5 separate regions of the Homo sapiens genome follow, and regions 1, 2, 3 and 4 are each linked to region 5. The links come from fine-mapping of genetic effects on gene expression. A gene starts in region 5. Each other region holds a variant in brackets. All regions are shown on one strand. Distances are between the middles of the regions. Region 1 has its middle 30 kb from the start of ARRDC2. Region 2 overlaps IL12RB1 (interleukin 12 receptor subunit beta 1). Region 3 overlaps IL12RB1 (interleukin 12 receptor subunit beta 1). Region 4 overlaps LOC124904652 (a long non-coding RNA gene). Region 5 holds the start of IL12RB1 (interleukin 12 receptor subunit beta 1).

Region 1 (4,260 bases), 48 kb after region 5:
GGAAACACTTTTTGATTCCTTTATTCCTCTTTCTTTTCTTTTTTTTTTTTCTTTTGAGACAGAGTCTTGCTCTGTCGCCCAGACTGGAGTGCAGTGGCACAATCTCGGCTCACTGCAAGCTCTGCCTCCTGGGTTCACGCCATTCTCCCGCCTCAGCCTCCCGAGTAGCTGGGACTACAGGCACCCGCCACCACGCCCGGCTAATTTTTTGTATTTTTAGTAGAGACGGGGTTTCACCGTGTTAGCCAGGATGGTCTCGATCTCCTGACCTCATGATCCATCCACCTCAGCCTCCCAGAGTGCTGGGATTACAGGCGTGAGCCACCGTGCCCAACCTTTTTTTTTTACTTAGATGGAGTCTCACTCTGTCGCCCAGGCTGGAGTGCAGTGGCACAGTCTCCTCTTTCTTGATGCAGGGGTCTGTCCTGAACTTCCATGGCACCAGATGATTTCTTCTCCACTACGTTCCTGATTCTACTATATTTTCTCACAGCTGCTATTTCTGCTTTTTTTTTTTTTTTTTTTTTTTTTTTTTTAAAGACATGGTCTCACTCTGTCTCCCAGGCTGGAGTGCAGTGGCGCAATCATGGCTCACTGCAGCCTCCACCTCCTAGGTTCAAGCTATTCCCCTGCCTCAGCCTCCTGAGTAGCTAGGATCACAGGTGCATGCCACCATGCTTGGCTAATTTTTTTGTTTTTTTGAGATGGAGTCTCGCTTTGCCACCCAGACTGGAGTGCAGTGGCATGATCTTGGATCACTGCAACCTCCGCCTCCTGGGTTCAAGCAATTCTCCTGCCTCAGCCTCCCAAGTAGCTGAAAGTACAGGCACCCACCACCACACCCAACTAATATTTTGTATTTTTATTAGAGAGGGGGGTTTCACTATGTTGGCCAGGCTGGTCTCGAACTCCTGACCTCAGGCGATCCACCCTCCTCAGCCTCCCAAAGTGCTGGGATTACAAGGGCGAACCACGACACGCGGCTCTATTTTGTATTTTTGTAGCAACGAGGTTTCGCCATGTTGCCCAGGCTAGTCTCGAACTCCTGGGCTCAAGTGATCCTCCCACTTGGCCTCCTAAAGTGCTGAGATGACAGGCGTGGGCCACTGCGCTGCACCCAGCTCCCTTAGGGCCACATTGCTGAGTCTGCAACAGGGCTCCTCTGCGTCCCTTTGCCTGAGCCACCAGCTCCCCGACTGGGATACTGAGTCCAGCTTCCAAGTGACCCTGGAACAGCATGGTATTGGGATCAAGACCACAGGATGCCACCCTGGCCTGGGCTCCTCGCTCCCAAGATTGTTCTAGAATCTAAGCAGCCCCAGGACTGGACATTTCAAAGGGGCAGGTGTGCAATGAGATGTGACCAGGAACTGGCTGATCCTGGGACATCACTGCTGCTGCCTCGCTGCGCTGGCAGGGAAGTGCTTGATGATTAGCAGTTGGCCATTTGGATGATGACAAGATGTCAGAGTGAGACTTTAGGTTGGCTCACACCAGTGTAAAACAAATGAACACAGCTGAGAAGACAAAAGACACTAAATCCAACCTGGGACTTATTTCTCCCGCTCTGACAATGCCCACTGCACCAGGCCCAACCCACCCTGTCCTCACAATGACCCCATGTGCAAGGGGGTGATGAACCTCATTGTACAGGTGAGGAAACTGAGGCACGCATCTGTATGTCTCAGACTGATGGGCACCATGGCTCACACCTGTAATCCCAGCTCTTTGGGAGGCTGAGGCAGGAGGATTGCATGAGCCCATGAGTTCAAGACCAGCCTGGGCAGGCCAGGCGTGGTGGCTCATGCTTGTAATCCCAGCACTTTGGGAGGCTGAGGCGGGCGGATCACAAGGTCAGGAGATCGAGACCATGGTAAAACCCCGTCTCTACTAAAAATACAAAAAATTAGCCAGGCGTGGTGGTGGGCACCTGTAGTCCCAGCTGCTGGGGCGGCTGAGGCAGGAGAATGGCGTGAACCTGGGAGGCGGAGCTTGCAGTGAGCTGAGATCATGCCACTGCACTCCAGCCTGGGCGACAGAGCGAGACTCCATCTCAAAAAAAAAAAAAAAAGACCAGCCTGGGCAACATAGCAAGATCCCAT[C/T]TCTACCAAAAAAAATAAATAAAAAGGACTGTTTTATCCAGATTGATAGTTCCAGGGCTATTACGCATGGAACCGGAGCCATGGTGCCTGATTCAGTATGGCTGTAACCCATACTATCTCCACTTCTAAACTGACTGCTTTAAGGCTGGGTGTGGTGGCTCATTCCTGTAATCCCAGCACTTTGGGAGGCTAAGGCGGGAGGATCGCTTGAGGACAGGAAGTCGAGGCTGCAGTGAGTCATGATTGCACCGCTGCCCTCCAGCCTGGGTGACAGACTGAGACCCTGTCTCCATAATAAATAAATAAATTGACTGCTTTCTCCTTTTTTTCTGTGTTTCTTTAATGGTATGCTCACATATGTTTCATGAATTCTTTGAATATAGCAAGTTAATACTTGTAACTTAAAACACAGATGTGTTTTATTTTGAAGCAAGAAAAAGAACATGAACAGACACATCTGGATAGCTAGGGTATGTAGCAAGAGACCACTCTTCATCATTCCAGAGCTGGAACTAATAACACGAGTTTTCCAAAACAGAAGACTTTGTATAAAGCATTTGAATTTTTTTCTTTTTCTTTTTCTTTTTTTTTTTTTTTTGAGACAGAGTTTCACTCTGTCACCCAGGCTGGAGTGCAATGGCGTGATCTCGGCTCACTGCAACCTCCACCTCCTGGGTTCAAGCGATTCTCCTGCCTCAGCCTCCCAAGTAGCTGGTAGGACAGGCGCCCACCACCATGTCCGGCTAATTTTTGTTATTTTTAGTAGAGATGGGGTTTCACCATGATGGCCAAGCTGGTCTCAAACTCCTGACCTTAGGTGATCCACCTGCCTCGGCCTCCCAAAGTGCTGGGATTACAGGCGTGAGCCACCACGCCTGGCCTTCTTTTTTTTTTTTTTCTTGAGACGGTCTCACTCCGTTGCCCAGGCTGGAGGGCAGTGGCACCATCACGGCTCACTGCAGGCTCAGCTTTCTGGGCTCAAGTGATCCTTCCATCTCAGCCTCTCAGGTAGCTGTGACTAAAGGCCTAGTCACAAGAACCATTCTGTAACATTCTGAGTGTCCACCGCCACACCTGGTTAATTAAAAAAAATTTTTTTTTGTAGAGATGGGGGGTCTCCCTACATTGCCCAGGCTGGTCTCAAACTCCTGGGCTCAAGTGATCCTTCCACCTCCCAAAGTGCTGGGATTACAGGTGTGAACCACCACTCCTGGCCTGGATTTTATTCTTACGTTACTTTTTTTTTTCTCACATTCTCAAAATAAAATATTAAATACATAAATTTTGAGTCAAGTGTATTAAGGTGTAACTTATATCCAATAAAGTACAGTTGAATGAGTTTTGTTTTTTTTGAGACGGGGTCTCACTCTGTCACCCAGGCTGGAGTGCAGTCGTGTGATCGCGGCTCACTGCAACCCCTGCCTCCCGGGTTCAAGCGATTCTCCTGCCTGAGCCTCCTGAGACACTGGGATTACAGGCACATGCCACCATGTACGGCTGATTTTGGTATTTTCAGTAGAGACGGGGTTTCACCATGTTGCCCAGGCTGGTCTCGAACTCCTGACCTCAAGTGATCCTCCCACCTCGGCCTCTCAAAGTGCTGGGATTACAGGCATAAGCCATGGTGCCCAGCCAGCACATTTTTCCTTATGGGGTTAACAGTGAGTTTCAGACAGTTACATATACAGTGGGGGTGGGGGGATAAATAAAAGTGAGGGGCCTTCCTGCAACAAGCCCCCGGGGCTGAGCTCAGAGGGGCCCAGCAGCCTGAGATGCAAGGTTGGCTCTTGGTCACCTGCAGTTGGCTAAAGTCCCATTTCATGGCCAGTGCTACTAAGGCTAGAGACAAAGGACCCAGTGGGCTCAAATCTGGCCCTGGATGCTGGACCTCCATCTTCTCACCTCAAAAGCAACGATAAGGCCAGGCGCATTGGCTCGCACTTGTAATCTCAACACTTTGGGAAGCCGAGGCAGGAGGATCGCTTGAGCCCAGGAGTTTGAGACCAGCCTGGGCAACATGGCAAGATCCCATCTCTTTAAAAAAAAAGTTTTAGCCTTGCACGGTGACATGCACCTATAGTCCCAGCTACTCGAGAGGCTGAGGCAGGAGGATCACTTGCACCTGGGAAGTCCAGGTTGCAGTGAGCTGCGATCGCAC
Region 2 (4,000 bases), 20 kb after region 5:
AGAAGCCCTGGTTCCATGGAGTAAGGGCTGGGTTAGAGGGGGATGGGGATGGGGTTGGGGGTGTTGCATAGGGAAGAGATCTTGGAGGAGGGGATATTGGTGCAAGGGCTTTGAAACATGAGTAGGAGTTTTCTGGGGGTTCCTGGCAGATGGCACAGCCAGTGCAAAGGTGCAGAGGTGGGAACACAATCTACTGAATGGCCTGGCCTTTGCTTATCCTTCCAGCAACCTACAGCTGGAGTCGAGAGTCTGGGGCAATGGGGCAGGAAAAGTGTTACTACATTACCATCTTTGCCTCTGCGCACCCCGAGAAGCTCACCTTGTGGTCTACGGTCCTGTCCACCTACCACTTTGGGGGCAATGGTAAGTGACCCAAACCTGCAGGTTTACATTATTTTTTCTTTTTAAATAATTTAAAAAAATAGAGGCTGGGCACAGTGACTCACGCATGTAATCCCAGCACTTTGGGAGGCCAAGGTGGGTGGATCACCTGAGGTCAGGAGTTTGAAACCAGCCTGGCCAATGTGGCGAAACCCTGTCTCTACTAAAAATACAAAAATTAGCCGGGTGTGGTGGCGGGTGCCTGTAATTCCAGATACTTGGGAGGCTGAGGCAGGAGAATCGCTTGAACCCAGGAGGCGGAGGTTGCAGTGAGCTGAGATCATGCCACTGTACTCCAGTCTGGGTGACAGAGCAAGACTCTGTCTCAAAAAAAAAAAAAAAAAAAAAAAAAAGGACAATGCTGTTAAGGCAGACAGAATGGCTCACCCCTGTAATCCCAGCACTTTGGCACTTTGGGAGGCTGAGGCTTGTGGATCACTTGAACCCAGGAGTTCAAGAACAGCCTGGGCAACATAGCAAGACCCCGTCTCTACAGAAAGAAAAAAGTTTGCCAGCCATGGTGGCATGTGCCTGTAGTCCCAACTACTCAGGAGGCTGAGGTGGTAAGATCACTTGATCCCAGGAGTTTGAGGCTGCAGTGAGCTATGATTGCACCACTGCAATCATACAACCTCTGCCTCCCGGGTTCAAGCCATTCTCCTTCCTCAGCCTCCTGAGTAGCTGGGATTATAGGTGTGCACTACCATGCCTGGATAATTTTTTGTATCTTTAGTAGAGACAGGGTTTTAGCATGTTGGCCAGGCTGGTCTCAAATGCCTAACCTCGTGATCCACCTGCCTTGGCCTCCCAAAGTGCCGGGATTACAGGTGTGAGCCACTGCGCCCGGCCAGCATTGTCCATTTTATAGATAAGAAAACTGAGGCCCAGGGAAGGGAAATGACAGTGACTGAGTGGCAGAACCAGAATTAAAACCCAGCTCACCTGACTCTGTGGCCAATGTTACCTCCGTCTCTGGACAGTGGGAGGCTGGGCATTCAGGAAGTGCTCAACCAGCACTCCTTTTTTTTTTTTTTTTTTTTTTTTCTTGAGACAGAGTCACTCTCTGTGGCCCAGGCTGGAGTGCAGTGGCACGATCTTGGCTCACTGAAACCTCTGCATCCCGGGTTCAAGCGATTCTCGTGCCTCAGCCTGCCGAGTAGCTGGGATTACAGGCGCCCACCATCATGCCTGGCTAATTTTTGTAGTTTTAGTAGAAACAGGGTTTCCCCATGTTCCTCAGGCTAGTCTCGAACTCCTGACCTTAAGTGATCTACCCACCTTGGCCTCCCAATATGCTGGGATTGCAGGCATGAGCCATCGTGGCTGGGCTTTTTTTTTTTTTTAAAGACAGGGTCTTGCTCTGTTGCCCAGGCTGGAGTGCAGTGGTGCCATCTTGGCTCACTGCAACCTCTGCCTCCTGGGCTCAAGTGATTCTCCTGCCTCAGCCTCCTGAGTAGCTGGGATTACAGGTGTCCGCCACCATGCCTGGCTAATTTTTGTATTTTTAGTAGAGAAGGGGTTTTGCCATGTTGGCCAGGCTGGTCTTGAACTCCTGGCCTCAAATGACTTACCCACCTCGGCCTCCCAAAGTGCTGGGATTACAGGTGCGAGCCACTGTGCCAGGCCTCGACCAGCATTCTTGGTGTTGACTATGACAATGGTACTGGTTGCAGCCTCAGCAGCTGGGACACCGCACCACGTCTCGGTGAAGAATCATAGCTTGGACTCTGTGTCTGTGGACTGGGCACCATCCCTGCTGAGCACCTGTCCCGGCGTCCTAAAGGAGTATGTTGTCCGCTGCCGAGATGAAGACAGCAAACAGGTGTCAGGTACGTGAGGCAGTGCAGACCTGGCTTGGGGAGGAAGGGAGGATCCTGGCCTGTGATCTCTCTTGCTGTGTGACCCTGGGCACCTTGCCGTCCTTCTCTGGGCCTTGGTTATCAAACCCTTAAAACAAGAGAATTGGCTGGGCGCAGTGGCTCACGCCTGTAATCCCAGCACTTTGGGAGGCCAAGGCGGGCGGATCACCTGAGGTCAGGAGTTCAAGACCAGCCTGAC[A/C]AACTTGGAGAAACCCCGTCTCTCCTAAAAATACAAAATTAGCCGGGCATGGTGGCACATGCCTGTAATTCTAGCTACACGGGAGGCTGAGGCAGGAGAATCGCTTGAACCCAGGAGGCGGAGATTGCAGTGAGCCGAGATTGTACCAGTGCACTCCAGCCTGGGTGACAGAGTGAGACTCTGTCTCAGAAAAAACAAAAACGAAAACAAACAAACAAAAAACAAAAACAAGAGAATTAGACTTGAGGGTCTTTTTTTTTTTTTTTTTAATTTTATAGACAGGGACTCACTCTGTGCCCAGGCTGGAGTGCAGTGGTGCCATCATAGCTCACAGCAGCCTCAACCTCCTGGGCTCAAGCGATCCTCCCACCTCAGCCTCCCTAGTAGCTGGAAACACAGGTGCACACCACCATGCACAGTTAATATTTTATTTTTTGTAGAAATGAGGCCTTGCTATATTGCCCAGGCTGGGATTTTTTCTTTTTTTTCTTTTTGAGAGGGAGTCTGTCTCTGTCACCCAGGCTGGAGTGCAGTGGCGCCATCTCAGCTCACTGCAACCTCTGCCTCCCGGGTTCAGGCAATTCTCTTGCCTCAGCCTCCCAAGTAGCTGGGATTACAGGCACCCACCACCATGCCTGGCAAATTTTTGTATTTTTAGCAGAGACGGAGTTTCACCATGTTGACCAGGCTGGTCTCAAACTCTTGACCTCAGGTGAATCACCCGCCTTGGCCTCCCAAAGGGCTGGGATTACAGGTGTGAGCCACCGTGTCCGGCCTCGCTCAGGCTGGTTTCAAACTTCTGGCCTCAAACTATCCTCCCACCTTGGCCTCCCAAAGTGCTGGGATTAGTCATGAGCACCCAGCTGAACTTGAGGGTCTCGATCACCCCTTGCAGACCCTGGAGAAGGCTGGGTGGGCACCAGCCAAGTGCTTATGGTGTATTGGATTCATCCATGGGAAGCTGCCCCTCACATGTAGCAGCAGCTGAACTCTCATCAAGCAGGGATGACTGTCTCCATTCCACAGATGAGGAAACTAAGGCCTGGAGGGGGGATCTGATGAGGGACAGGAAAGCCCACAAAACAGGGTTTAGCCAGGAGGGTTTTTGGCTTTCCCCAGGAAAGAGTTCAAGTGCATGTCGGTGGTGTTAGACAGAAACTTTTACTGAAGTGGCCGTGTAGAGCAGCAGCAGAAGTCCTGCTCCTTGCAGAGTGGGGACGCCCCACAGGCAGGGCAGCTACGTCTCATATTTATACCCGCTTTTAATTATATGCAAATGAAGGGGCGGTTTATGCAGAAATATCTAGGATGAAGGTAGTAACTTCCGGGTTGTGGGATCATTGCCGTGGACAGGGGCGGTAATTTCCGGGTGTTGCCATGGTAATGGTAAACTGACATGGCACACTGGTGGGCGTGTCTTATGGAAAGCCCAGGACCTGCTTTAGCTAGTCCTCAGTTTGGTCCTGTGTCCAAGCCCTGCCTCCAGAGTCCAATCCTGCCTCCAACCTCAGATCCACCTGCCCAAAGATCCAACAAGTCAGCCGGACGCGGTGGCTCACGC
Region 3 (4,216 bases), 28 kb after region 5:
TAGGGAAGGGTCTGATGGGTGGGCTGGCCAGGGTCACATGACCATTGCTAGAGCTGAGGTGGGGTCACTGCACTGTCAACCACACCATCTGTGAAAAGAGGGAGGGAAATTTCCCAAAGACAGATGGGAGTGCTCTTCCTAAGAGGGGCTGAATGGGAGTCAGTGCGGCAGACTCCATCCTCAAATCGGTCTCAGGATATATGGAGTCTCGCTCTGTCACCCAGCCTGGAGTGCAGTGGCGCCATCTCGGCTCACTGCAACCTCTGATTCCCGGGTTCAAACGATTCTCCTGCTTCAGCCTCCCAAGTAGCTGGGATTACAGGCGTGCGCAACCAAGCTCAGCTAATTTTTGTATTTTTAGTAGAGATGGGGTTTGGCCATGTTCTCCAGGCTGGTCTCAAACTGCTGACCTCAAGTGATCCACCCGCCTCAGCCTCCCAAAGTGCTGGGATGACAGGTGTGAGCCACTGCACCCGTCCAGGTCTCAGGATGTTAGAGAATTTAACCAGCAGTGACCTGGTCCGTTCCATCCTGCTGTGGATGGGAAGTAGAGCTCTGCTCACAGCTGTGGCCCTACCCTCCCTCTGCAGACTTGGCAGTGGATCAACCCAGTGGACTTCCAGGAAGAGGCATCCCTGCAGGAGGCCCTGGTGGTAGAGATGTCCTGGGACAAAGGCGAGAGGACTGAGCCTCTCGAGAAGACAGAGCTACCTGAGGGTGCCCCTGAGCTGGCCCTGGATACAGAGTTGTCCTTGGAGGATGGAGACAGGTGCAAGGCCAAGGTCCTGGGGCCCAGTGGGCCAGACGGTCAGGGGTGCAACCCTGCCCGGGGGGTGGGGGGGCTAGACATCCATCGCTCCTGGGATATCAGGGCCTGGAGGCCTGAGGGAGAAACGAAAACATCCACTTTGTCTTACAGACACGAAGAGCGACTATCTCAATCACAACGGCTGGTTATTAAGCACTTATGGCATACCCAGCCCATTCCATCCACTCACATGATTCCCTACCAAATCCCTACAACCACCCCCTGAAAGGAACCATGACTGTTGTACTTTACAGATGTGATCGTTGAGGCTCAGAGAGGGTGAGTGACTCGCCCGAGGCTACGTAGCACACACAGGAGTCACATTTGGACCCAAATAACCCAGAGCTCCTCCAGGCTCCAGTGCACCTGCCTCCTCTCTGCCCCGTGCCTGTTGCCACCCATCCTGCGGGGGAACCCTAGATGCTGCCATGAAATGGAAGCTGCTGCACCCTGCTGGGCCTGGCATCCGTGGGGCAGGAGCAGACCCTGCCATTTACCTGTTCTGGCGTAGAATGGACTGGGAATGGGGGCAAGGGGGGCTCAGATGGATCCCTGGACCCTGGGCTGGGCATCCACCCCCAGGAGCACTGGATGGGGAGTCTGGACTCAAGGGCTCCCTGCAGCATTGCGGGGTCTTGTAGCTTGGAGGATCCAGGCATATAGGGAAGGGGGCTGTAAACTTTGTGGGAAAAATGACGGTCCTCCCATCCCACCCCCCACCCCACCCTCACCCCCCTATAAAATGGGGGTGGTGATAATGACCTTACACAGCTGTTCAAAATCATCGTAAATGAGCCTCCTCTTGGGTATTTTTTTCCTGTTTGAAGCTTGAATGTCCTGCTCAAAATCTCAAAACACGAGCCTTGGAATTCATTCATTCATTCATTCATTCATTCCACATATATTTATTAATCTCTTCCTCTAGGTCTCCTCCAGGAGCACCTAATCCGGGGGAGACAGAGCCGGATGAGAGCTTGGAACCCTA[C/G]TAAGTTAGGACTGAGCAGGGGAAGGGACGGCCTAGGGGGAGTGGAGCAGCCGGGCACTCCGGTAACAGGAACCGTGGTTTGCCCCCACGCTCCTTCCTCCTCACGCCCACCAACTCGCAGCAGGACCCTTGCCCCCCTTACACACCCTGAATCCTCCCTCTTTCTGCCCACACTGCCCCACCTCCCTCGCGTTCTGCAGCCGCCTCCCCCTGATCCCCACTGCGGTCTGAGCCGAGGTGTGGGGGGGGGCTCCTGAAATCCCACCCCAGCCCTGGCGATTAGCGGGTAGTCCAGATTCTCCCCATGGCCACCAGGTGGCAACAGCGGCGCGCGTTTCCCCGGCCGGGCCCGCCCTGCCTCCTCCCACCGCGTTTGCTAAACAGACTTTTCCGGTTTCAGACAGAGGAGGGGAGTTAAAAAGCCCAGAACTACTGAATTTTGTGGCAAAAAAAGGATGAGACCTCTCGGGGAGAGACCCCTGGCAGCCAATAGGGCCAGGAGGCAAGAGGCCCAGGCCCCGCCCCTTTGGTCTGGGGGCCTCCCTTTCCCCATCGATGCATCTAGATAGGGAAACAGAGGCCTGGATCTCGGTGCCCCAGCCACACGGTGGCTGGTCAGAGTTCTGCAAATGCCCCCCGCCCCGCTCCGGATCTGCCACATCCCAGCTTCTGCTCAAGCCGTTCCCTCCACCAGGCATGCCCTCCCTTGAGCGTTTATCCTCCTTTCTTTTTTCTGAGACGGAGTTTGGCTCTTGTTGCTGGAGTGCAATGGCGCGATCTTGGCTCACGGCAACCTCCCGGGTTCAAGCGATTCTCCTGCCTCAGCCTCCCAAGTAGCTGGGATTACAGGCGCCCGCCACCCTGACCAGCTAAAATGTGTTTGTATTTTTAGTAGAAACAGGGTTTCACCATGTTGGCCAGGCTCGTCTTGAACTCCAGACCTCAAGTGATCCACCCGCCTCGGCCTCCCAAACTGCTGGGATTGCAGGTGTGAGCCCTGGAGGCCCCTGGAGTTGGCTGCAAACCCACCCCTATGCACAGTCCCTTGGGTGCGAGAAGTAGGAGACAGGCAATGTTTACTGGCAGCAGCTGGGACTTTTGCCAGAGTGCATGGGGAAGATGCACACCCTGCTTCCACTAGCGGGAGACTGAGCTGGACAGAGGGAAGCCTGGAGCTTGGAGCCTCTTTCCTTCCTACCGTGGGGATGCCTGTCTGAGAGAGGAGCCTGCAGGGAGGACAGCAGCACCGAGATGAAGCATTAGTTCCTGGATCCAGCCATACCTGAAACCCAATATTTTCCATCTGGTTCCTGTTTTTAAAAAATATTTTAGGCCGGGCATGGTGGCTCACGCCTGTAATCCCAGCACTTTGGGAGGCAGAGGCGGGCTGATCACCTGAGGTCAGGAGTTTGAGACAAGCCCGGCCAACATGGTGAAACCCCGTCTCTACTAAAAATACAAAAATTAGCTGGGCGTGGTGGCAAGCGCCTATAATCCCAGCTACTTGGTAGGCTGAGGCGGGAGAATCGCTTGAACCTGGAAGGGGGTGGTTGCAGTGAGCCGAGATTGTGCCACTACACTCCAGCCTGGGCGACAGAGCGAGACTCCGTCTCAAAAAATAAATAAATAAATAAATAAATAAATAAATATTTTTTTTTATTTTTTGTTTCTTTTTTGAGACAGGGTCTCACTCTGTTGCCCAGGCTGGAGTGCAGTAGCACCATCTTGGCTCACTGCAACCTCCACTTCCTAGGATCGAGTGATCCTCCAGCCTCAGCCTCAGGCTCAAGCCTTGTTGCCAAGGTTTTGCCATGTTGCCCAGGCTGGTCTCGAACTGCTGAGCTCAAATGATCCACCTGACTTGGCCTCCCAAAGTGCTGGGATTACAGGCATGAGCCACTGCACCCGGCCTCAGTTCCCTGTTTGATGAAGCCACTTTGAGTCCTTCTTCTGTCCCTAGAAAATGACCAACAGGAGGTTCTTTCTGGGCCTCTGCTTACCCGTCTATAAAATAGGAAGGGATTTGGAGTCCTTTTCTCAATGGGCCCAGCAAGTTTGCTTAGCTGGGCCCTGGCCTGGTATTTATTGAGCAACTGCTATGCAACTATTACTCCAGGGCTCCTCAGAGCAGCCATTGCCTCAGCTTCTCCCAGCAGCTCCAGGAGTCAGGATGGTGTTAGCCCCCATTTCACAGCTCAGTTTCATTCATTCATTTAAGAAATCAGGGTCCGGCGCGGTGGCTCACACCTGTAATCCCAGCACTTTGGGAGGCCAAGGCGGGCCGATCGCTTGAGCTCAGGAGTTCGAGGCCAGCCTGGCCAACATGGTGAAACCCCGTCTCTACTAAAAATACAAAAATTAGCCAGGTTTGGTGGCACATGCCTGTAGTCTCAGCTACTTGGGAGGCTGAGGGCTGAGGTGGG
Region 4 (4,260 bases), 200 kb before region 5:
CCAAAGTGCTGGGATTACTGCCCTGAGCCACTGTGCCCGGCCTGCAGGTTGCTTTAAACAATAAATCTCTGCGCTGGGGAAGGACTACAGCCGCAGCGATTCAAACCCCGGCGGCTGCGGGGCGTCAGGTTCGGCTTCTGCTTGGAGGGCAGGGTTCTCTCTGGCCTGGCCTGTACGACTCTGGGCACGTCGCGCGCCCCCTCCAGACACTGCCCTGAGAAGTGGGATAACGTCCCTCACCACTCGTGGAGCTGCTGCTGAGATAAAGGTGAAAATGCAGAGTCCCGGACCAAGCCCTAGTGTTGCCCCAACCTCATCTGCAACTTTCATTGCCTTGGGGGTAAATCCCTCCTGAGCAGAGGTGGAGGCTTCGGCACTCCCCTTCTCTTCCTTTGGCACTCACTGGCTTCCCAATCCAGTCCCACCTGCCTCCCCACCTTCTAGAAATGTGTCCAACTGGTTCCTGCCCCGGGGCCTTTGAACTGGCTGTTCCTATTACCGGAACCCTCTGATCCCCCAATAATTGGCAATTAAGTCCAGCTTGTCTGTCACTTGGTGTTACATCCTGGGCCACCCCTCCCAGATTACCCAAACTCTAAAATATCAGCCCCCTCCACTACCATCTATGGCGGGGACACCATTGATTCTCCTGAAAACTGCGCCGGTCTGGCTCTCCCTTGGTGTGGGGACCTACAAAGGTGCAGATGTTGGTCTTGTTCATGTGTGCCCTTTCCCCTGGCTTACAGTAGGGGCTCAATCAGTGTATGTGGATTGAATGAATGAAAGTTCTCTCTAGTTCATTGTATGGGACTAGCTGATGGCGTTAGAGACACCCTCCGCCCCATATGTCCAAAGTGGCTTCAGATCTGCCCCGGAGGAACCCCCACTCTGGGAAAACAGAGCTGGACCAACAGCTGCTGTGGTGTCAGGGCTGGGATAAATGGAAGGACAGGAATGGGGTGTCCCAGAGGGCTCTCTGGCTGGGAGGAGGAAGGAGAGGGTAGGAAAGGGCATTGAGGTGGAGCAACAGAAAATGCGAAGAGAAAGAAAAAGGGAGGCCAGGCGCAGTGACTCAAGCCTGTAATCCCAGCACTTTGGGAGGCTGAGGCGGGCAGATCATGAGGTCAGGCTCAAGGCCAGCCTGACCAACATCGTGAAACCCCGTCTCTACTAAAAATACAAAAAATTAGCCGGGCGTGTTGGCACATGCCTGTAATCCCAGCTATTTAGGGAGGCTGAGGCAGGAGAATCGCTTGAACCCAGGAGGGGAAGGTTGCAGTGAGCCAAGATCAAGCCACTGCACTCCAGCCTGGGCGACAGAGCGAGACTCCATCTCAAAAAAAAGAAGAAAGGAGCCCTTGGGGGTGGCAAAGGCAGCTTCCCACACTTAGGGGCCAGGAGAGGCCTTCCCCATCCAGTCCTGAAGACCTCCCCTCCCCTTCTATGGAGGAGACAGAACAAGACACAGATAAGGGACAGACAGGTCTTAGCCAGATGGAGAGGATTGACGACGGTCCTAGGGGACATGGTCAGGAAGGGTTTCTTGGAGAAGGTGGTGGGTTTTGAAGGATGAGTAGGAGTTCGCCAAGAGTGTAAGGGTATTCCAAGCTGAGAGAACTCAAAACCAAAGAACTGCAGTTACATTTGGGCAAATAATACAATCATAGAAAGCATTTATTGACCCCTTACTATTTGTTTTTTCTTTCTTTTTTTTTTTTTTTTGAGTTGGAGTCTCACTCTGTTGCCCAGGCTGGAGTGCAGTGGCGCGATCTCGGCTCACTGCAACCTCCTCCTCCTGGGTTCAAGTGATTCTCCTGCCTCAGCCTCCCAAGTAGCTGGGACTAAAGGCGTGCGCCACCACACCGGGAGAATTTTTGTATTTTTAGTAGAGACAAGGTTTCACTATGTTGGCCAGGCTGGTCTCGAACGCCTGACCTCGTGATCCACCTGCCTCAGCCTCCCAAAGTGCTGAGATTACAGGCGTGCGCCACCACACCCAGCCTGACCCCTTACTATTTCTTCAAATCCAATAAAAATCGCA[A/G]TGCTTTTCCTTTCTGCACCATCGTGGTGTGTTCTTGACTCCACTTCTCGCCATATCTTCCTACAAGACTTTCAGGATTAAGCGATTCCTGGACAAGAAACAAAAGCAAAATCGTCCCATTCCCCAGTGGATTTGGATGAAAACTGGAAATAAAATCAGGTACAACTCCAAAAGGACACTGGAGAAGAACCAAGCTGGGTCTATAAGGAATTGCACATGAGATGGCACACATATTTATGCTGTCTGAAGGTCACGATCACGTTAGCATATCAAACTGAAAGTGTCACCACTATCTGGAGAGTTCGACGTGTTTTCCTCTCTGAATCTGTTATGAACGTGTGGGTTGGCTGGGTTCAGTAATAAATATGTGAGGCCTTTCATTTCAAAAAAAAAAATCGCGATACTCCACAAAGTAGGTAGGTTTATTTGCTCAATTTTCATGAAGGAAAAGCTGAGGCTCAGAGAGGTTGACAGGCCTCTGTATCTCACCTGCCTGCCTGCAGGAAAGTGCTCCACTCAGCTCAGGCTGTCTCAGCCTACCATTCACCAGACCATCTCCCCAGCTGCCAAGGCTGAGGCCCAAGTTCAGGGCAGGGCCTCTGTAGGCCGCCCACTCACCTCCTGCCTCAGGGAGAGGCATGACCCCGTCTCCTCCACTCTGGCCCCACTGCACGGGACCCAGAGAGGGGTTCCCAGGGCAGGGCTGGCTACAGGTCTGCGGGCTGGATCTTGTCCCACTAGGGATCTCTTTGTCCAGGATAGAACCTGGGCTAGAGAGCACAGAGACCCATGGATCTGAGTATGTATCTGTGTGTACCTGCGTCTGTCTATACAACACGAATACAGACAGACACAGGTGCACACACAGACACACACTCCAATAGGCAGACAGACACCTTCCTAACCAATCTAGAGACAAAACAAACCCACACCTCCAGTTCCCTGCCCTGGCAATTTGAATCCCAGGCCTGCCAGGCCAGGTCTTTATTATTATTATTATTATTATTATTATTATTATTATTATTATTTTTAAGATGGAGTCTTGCCCTGTTGCCCAGGCTGGAGTGTAGTGGCATGATTTCAGCTCACTGCAACCTCCATCTCCTGGGTTCAAGTGATTCTCCTTTCTCCAGAGCAGCTGGGATTACCGGTGCGCTCCCCATGCCTGGCTAATTTTTGTATTTTTAGTAGAGACAGGGTTTTGCCATATTGGCCAGGCTGGTCTCGAACTCCTGACCTCAGATGACTTGCCCGCCTCAGCCTCCCAAAGTGCTTATTACAGGTGTGAGCCACCTCGCCCAGCCTATTTTTTTTTTCTTCTTTTTTTTTTTTGAGACAGTGTCTCACTCTGTAGCCCAGGCTGGAGTGCAATGGCGCAATCTCGGCTCACTGCAACCTCCACCTCCCGGGTTCAAGCGATTCTCCTGCCTCAGCCTCCCGACTAGCTGGGATTACAGGCACCTGCCACCACACCTGGCTAATTTTTTTTTCTTTTCTTTTTTCTTTTTTTTTTTTGAGACGGAGTCTCGCTCTGTTGCCCAGGCTGGAGTGTAGTGGTGTGATCTCGGCTCACTGCAAGCTCTGCCTCCCGGGTTCATGCCATTCTCCTGCCTCAGCCTCCCGAGTAGCTGGGGACTACAGGCGCCCGCCACCATGCCCGGCTAATTTTTTTTTTTATTTTTCAGTAGAGACAGGGTTTCACCGTGTTAACCAGGATGGTCTTGATCTCCTGACCTCGTGATCAGCCTGCCTTGGCCTCCTAAAGTGCTGGGATGACAGGCGTGAGCCTCTGCGCCCAGCCTAATTTTTATTTTCAATAGAGATGGGGTTTCACCATGATGGTCAGGCTGGTCTCAAACTCCTGACCTCAAATGCCTGCCTCAGACTTCCAAAGTGCTGGGATTACAGGCAGGAGTCACCGCGTGTGGCCGACAGGCCACCTCTCTTGGTGATGAGGACAGCCTCCCTTATGGCCTTCATGCCCCAGTTGGGGGCAGAGCCAGGTGAGTAAGGAGGATAGAAAAGGAGTAACGCATGCCCACTGGCCAGGCAGACAAACTGAGGCTAGAGACCACCCACACAAGCAACCTTTTGTTGCATTCACCTTTATTTTTTATTTTTTTTTGAGACTGGAGTCTCACTCTGTCTCCCAGGCTGGAGTGCAGTGGCACAATCTCAGCTCACTGCAACCTCTGCCTCCCGGGTTCAAGCGATTCTCA
Region 5 (4,000 bases):
ACTAAGTTGCATCTCTTAAATTTTTTTTTTTTTTTTTTTAAGAGACAGGATCTTGCTCTGTTACCCAGACTGGAGTGCAGTGGCACAATCACGATTCACTGCAGCCTCAACCTCCTGGGTTCAAGCCATTCTCCCACCTCAGCCTCCTGAGTAGCTGAGAATACAGATGTGTGCCACCACGACTGGCTAACTTTTAATTTATATATATATATATATTTTGAGATGGAGTGTCACTCTGTTGCCCAGGCTGGAGTGCAGTGGCGCGATCTCGGCTCACTGCAACCTCCACCTCCTGGGTTCAAGCGATTCTCCTGCCTCAGCCTCCTCAGTAGCTGGGATTACAGGTGCCTGCCACCACACCCGGTTAATTTTTGTATTTTCAGTAGAGACAGGGTTTCACCATTTTGGTCAGGCTGGTCTCAAACTCCTGACCTCGTGATCCACCTGCCTTGGCCTCCCAAAGTACTGGGATTACAGGCGTGAGCCACCGCGCCTGGCCTAATTCTTTATTTTTTATAGAGATGGGGTCTTGCTATGTTGTTTAGGTAGACCCAAACTCCTGGGGTCAAGTGATCCTCCCACCTCGACCTCTCAAAGTGCTGGGATTAGAGGGGTGAGCCCAGGTGCACAAGGCTGGAGCTTGGCATGTGGGGAGGTGGGCATTGTGGAGGGCCAGCATGCTGCAAGCTCTTTGTAACAATTTGTTGGAAGGATGAAATTAGGCCATCCAAGAACACTGCCCTCCTTCAGCTCTTGAGTCTCAGATTCAGAAGCTGGCGAGATGGCCCGGTGCGGTGGCTCACGCCTGTGATCCCAGAATTTTGGTAGGCCAAGGCGGACGGATCATTTGAACCCGGGAGTTTGAGACCAGCCTGGGCAACATGGCAAAACCCCCTCTCTTAAAAAAAAAAAAATGCAAAAATTAGCTGGGCGTGGTGGTGCATGCCTGTAGTCCCAGTTCCTGGGGAGGCTGAGGTAGGAGGATGGCCTGAGCCTGGGGAGGTTGATGTTGCAGTGAGCCGTGATTGCACCACTGCACTACAGCTGGGCCACAGATCAAGACCCTATCTCAAAAGAAGAAAAAAAGAATTTGGCAGCCAGGCACGGTAGCTCACGCCTGTCATCCCAGCACTTTGGGAGGCTGAGGTGGGTGGATCACTTAGGGTTAGGAGTTCGAGACCAGCCTGGCCAGCATGGTGAAACCCTGTCTCTACTAAAAATACAAAAATTAGCTCGATGTTGTGGCAGTTGCCTGTAATTCCAGCTACTCGGGAGGCTGAGGCAGGAGAATTGCTTGAACCCGGGAGGCAGAAGTTGCAGTGAGTGGAGATCATGCCACCACACTCCAGCCCGGGCGACAGAGCAGGGCTCCATCTCAAAAAAAAAAAAAAAAATTGGCTAGAGAGGGCCAGAGACCTGGCCAAGTGCATGGAACCACAGGTGGCCCATGGGCCCATGGGGCTGGCATCTGGGTGTTCAGTTCAGGTCTGGGGCCAGCAGGGCAGAACCCCCTAGAACCCTGACTTGCTCCAAAGTCAGACTTGCTCCAGAGTCTGTGGCCGCCACCATCACCACCACCACGGAGCTGACTTCCTGGGTTTCTCTTTCACTTTGACTTGCCTTAGGGATGGGCTGTGACACTTTACTTTTTTTCTTTTTTCTTTTTTTTCAGTCTTTTCTCCTTGCTCAGCTTCAATGTGTTCCGGAGTGGGGACGGGGTGGCTGAACCTCGCAGGTGGCAGAGAGGCTCCCCTGGGGCTGTGGGGCTCTACGTGGATCCGATGGAGCCGCTGGTGACCTGGGTGGTCCCCCTCCTCTTCCTCTTCCTGCTGTCCAGGCAGGGCGGTGAGTCCCCTGACCCTGGCATGGCGGCTCCTCTTGCTGGGTGGAGGCACGTGTATGTGTGGAGAGCTGTGGGCCTGCTGTGTGGGTTGGTTTCATCTCTCTGTGCCTCAGTCTTTCCTGCTGTCAAATGGGAGATGGGCAGTCATGGCTTCTGGGATCGAACTTAGACATCTTTCCTCTGGTCTAGATTTTCTCTTCTGTGAAATGCACTAAATTTTTTCCACCTCCCGGAGTTCAATGAGAAAAAAAACTAAGGAAGGAATAAAAAGCAAGTATGTATCTAATAGGTATACATAGTATAGTATCTTATGTATGTAGTTTACAATAGATAGACATACATAATATAATGTATACAGTCATTTCCATATTTACGGGGCAATGGTTCCAGGACCCTCTGCAGATACCAAAATCCAAAGATGCTCAAGTTCCTGATATAAAATGGTAAAGTATTTGCATATAACCTATGCACATCCTTCCGTATACTTTACTTATTTATTTATTTATTTATTTATTTATTTATTTATTTATTTATTTACTGAGGTAGGGTCTCACTCTGTGTCCCAGGCTGGAGTGCAGTGGCCTAATCATAACTCATTGCAGCCTTGACCACCTGGGCTCAAGTGATCCTCCTGCCTTAGCCCCTTGAGTAGCTGGGACTGCAGGTGCACACTACCATGCCTGGTTAATTTTTTTGGTGTATACTTTTTACAGAGACAGCGTCTCGCTGTGTTGCCCAGGCTGGTCTCGAACTCCTGGGCTCAAATGATCCACTCACCTTGGCCTCCCAAAGTGCTCAGATTACAGGCATGAGCCACCATGCCCAGCCTTCCCATATACTTTTAATAATCTCAGGCCCTGCACGGTGACTCACTCCTGAAAATCCAGCACTATGGGAGGCCAAGATGGGTGGATCACTTGAGGTCAGGAGTTCGAGACCAGCCTGGCTAACATGGTGAAACCCCATCTCTACTAAAAATGCAAAAATTAGCCAGGCTTGATGATGGGCACCTGTACTCCCAGCTACTTAGGAGCTGAGGTGGGAGGATCGCTTGAACCCAGGAGGCAGAGGTTGCAGTGAGCCGAGATTGCAGCACTGCATTCCAGCCTGTGTGGCAGAGCAAGACTCTATCTCAATAATAATAATAATAAATAAACTTTCCTTCTCTGTACACTGGGGATCAGCGGGGTGCTGACTTTTTCAATGGCTCTTGAGATGCACTGAGTGCCTGTAGAATGCCCACAGCAGTGCTGGCCACACCTCAAGGTCCCAGCGCCTTCAGGGGCCAGGCATGGCTGGAGACCAGCAGCAGGGAGGGGGCGAGAGGCAGCCCACGAGGTATCCTGGAGATAGTGGCAGTGAGTGGTCAGTCCAGGGAAAGGGAAGGAGGATGGGCTTTAGGCTCTCAGGGGTGGGTGGGTGGGTGGGGGTTCTGTGTCATCACAGAGAGAGATGGAAGGATGGAGAGCCTTGTGTGTTAAGCATCTTTCCCCCCTCAAGGTTGGACACTTGGGGCTGTTTCCTGGGGTGCCGCCTTCTCCCCCAAGGCTTCCAATCTGCCTGCAGGGCTCAGGACAGGTCCTTCTTGTGGGAGTGAGGGCGCCGGGGTCTTCCTGACCCATCCATGGTGGCATCCCCCTCCTTCTCTCACCCAGTTCCACACCTAGCAGACTGTGGCAATCCCAAAGGGCACGGGGATCCCAGTGGCTGAGGGAGGTCGCTGCCTCCTGGAGAAATGTTATTAATAATTGCCCTGACTGCTAGTGGGCCAAGTGTGCTTGCCTGGGCCAGCCCTGGCAGGCCTCTCCCTGCCATGCACCCTCTACTGTCTTTCCCCATGCTGGCTTCAGACACTGGTGCCACCCCAGGCACACCTCCACTTCTCTCTGCCCTCCAGACTGTTGGTCTTACTGTTCTTTCCTGCAGGGGTACCTCCCGAGAGTGTCTCCCAAATATGCATCTCAACCTCTGAGGACTAAAGGGTGGTGGATGAATGGATAGACAGGTGGATGGGTGGGTAAATGAATGGATGGATGAATTAATAAATACATGTATGTATGTATGGATGGATGGATGGATGGATGGATGGATGGATGGATGGCTGGATGGATATATCGGTAGGTAGATAAATGGATGGATGGGTGGGTGTATGGATGA

The links. PIP is the estimated chance that this variant, and not a neighbour inherited with it, causes the effect.
Region 1: its variant is fine-mapped to the expression of IL12RB1 in whole blood (INTERVAL, PIP 0.98).
Region 2: its variant is fine-mapped to the expression of IL12RB1 in testis (GTEx, PIP 0.98).
Region 3: its variant is fine-mapped to the expression of IL12RB1 in whole blood (TOPMed, PIP above 0.99). The same link has a PIP of 0.9 or more in blood mononuclear cells.
Region 4: its variant is fine-mapped to the expression of IL12RB1 in whole blood (TOPMed, PIP above 0.99).

What each region holds. Positions count from the first base shown.
Region 1 is chr19:18,036,015-18,040,274 of GRCh38, reverse strand. No RefSeq gene overlaps it. Among named protein-coding and RNA genes, the nearest start is that of ARRDC2, 30 kb to the right of the region's middle. The variant C/T (reference allele first, on the strand shown) is at 2,103.
Region 2 is chr19:18,064,752-18,068,751 of GRCh38, reverse strand. It overlaps IL12RB1 (interleukin 12 receptor subunit beta 1), which reads left to right. Exons shown (of 17, transcript NM_005535.3): 11 at 226-363; 12 at 2,055-2,210. Among named protein-coding and RNA genes, the nearest start is that of IL12RB1, 20 kb to the left of the region's middle. RefSeq lists an enhancer at 3,599-3,893. The variant A/C (reference allele first, on the strand shown) is at 2,440.
Region 3 is chr19:18,056,460-18,060,675 of GRCh38, reverse strand. IL12RB1 (interleukin 12 receptor subunit beta 1) reads left to right here. Exons shown (of 17, transcript NM_005535.3): 16 at 591-782; 17 at 1,063-1,681. The coding sequence ends at 1,068. Among named protein-coding and RNA genes, the nearest start is that of IL12RB1, 28 kb to the left of the region's middle. The variant C/G (reference allele first, on the strand shown) is at 1,794.
Region 4 is chr19:18,283,330-18,287,589 of GRCh38, reverse strand. It overlaps LOC124904652 (a long non-coding RNA gene), which reads right to left. Exons shown (of 2, transcript XR_007067154.1): 2 at 1,657-2,129. It also overlaps the pseudogene RPL39P38. Among named protein-coding and RNA genes, the nearest start is that of MIR3188, 3.4 kb to the right of the region's middle. The variant A/G (reference allele first, on the strand shown) is at 2,042.
Region 5 is chr19:18,084,605-18,088,604 of GRCh38, reverse strand. It overlaps IL12RB1 (interleukin 12 receptor subunit beta 1), which reads left to right and starts at 1,671. Exons shown (of 17, transcript NM_005535.3): 1 at 1,671-1,845. The coding sequence starts at 1,782. RefSeq lists enhancers at 1,340-1,399, 1,410-1,759.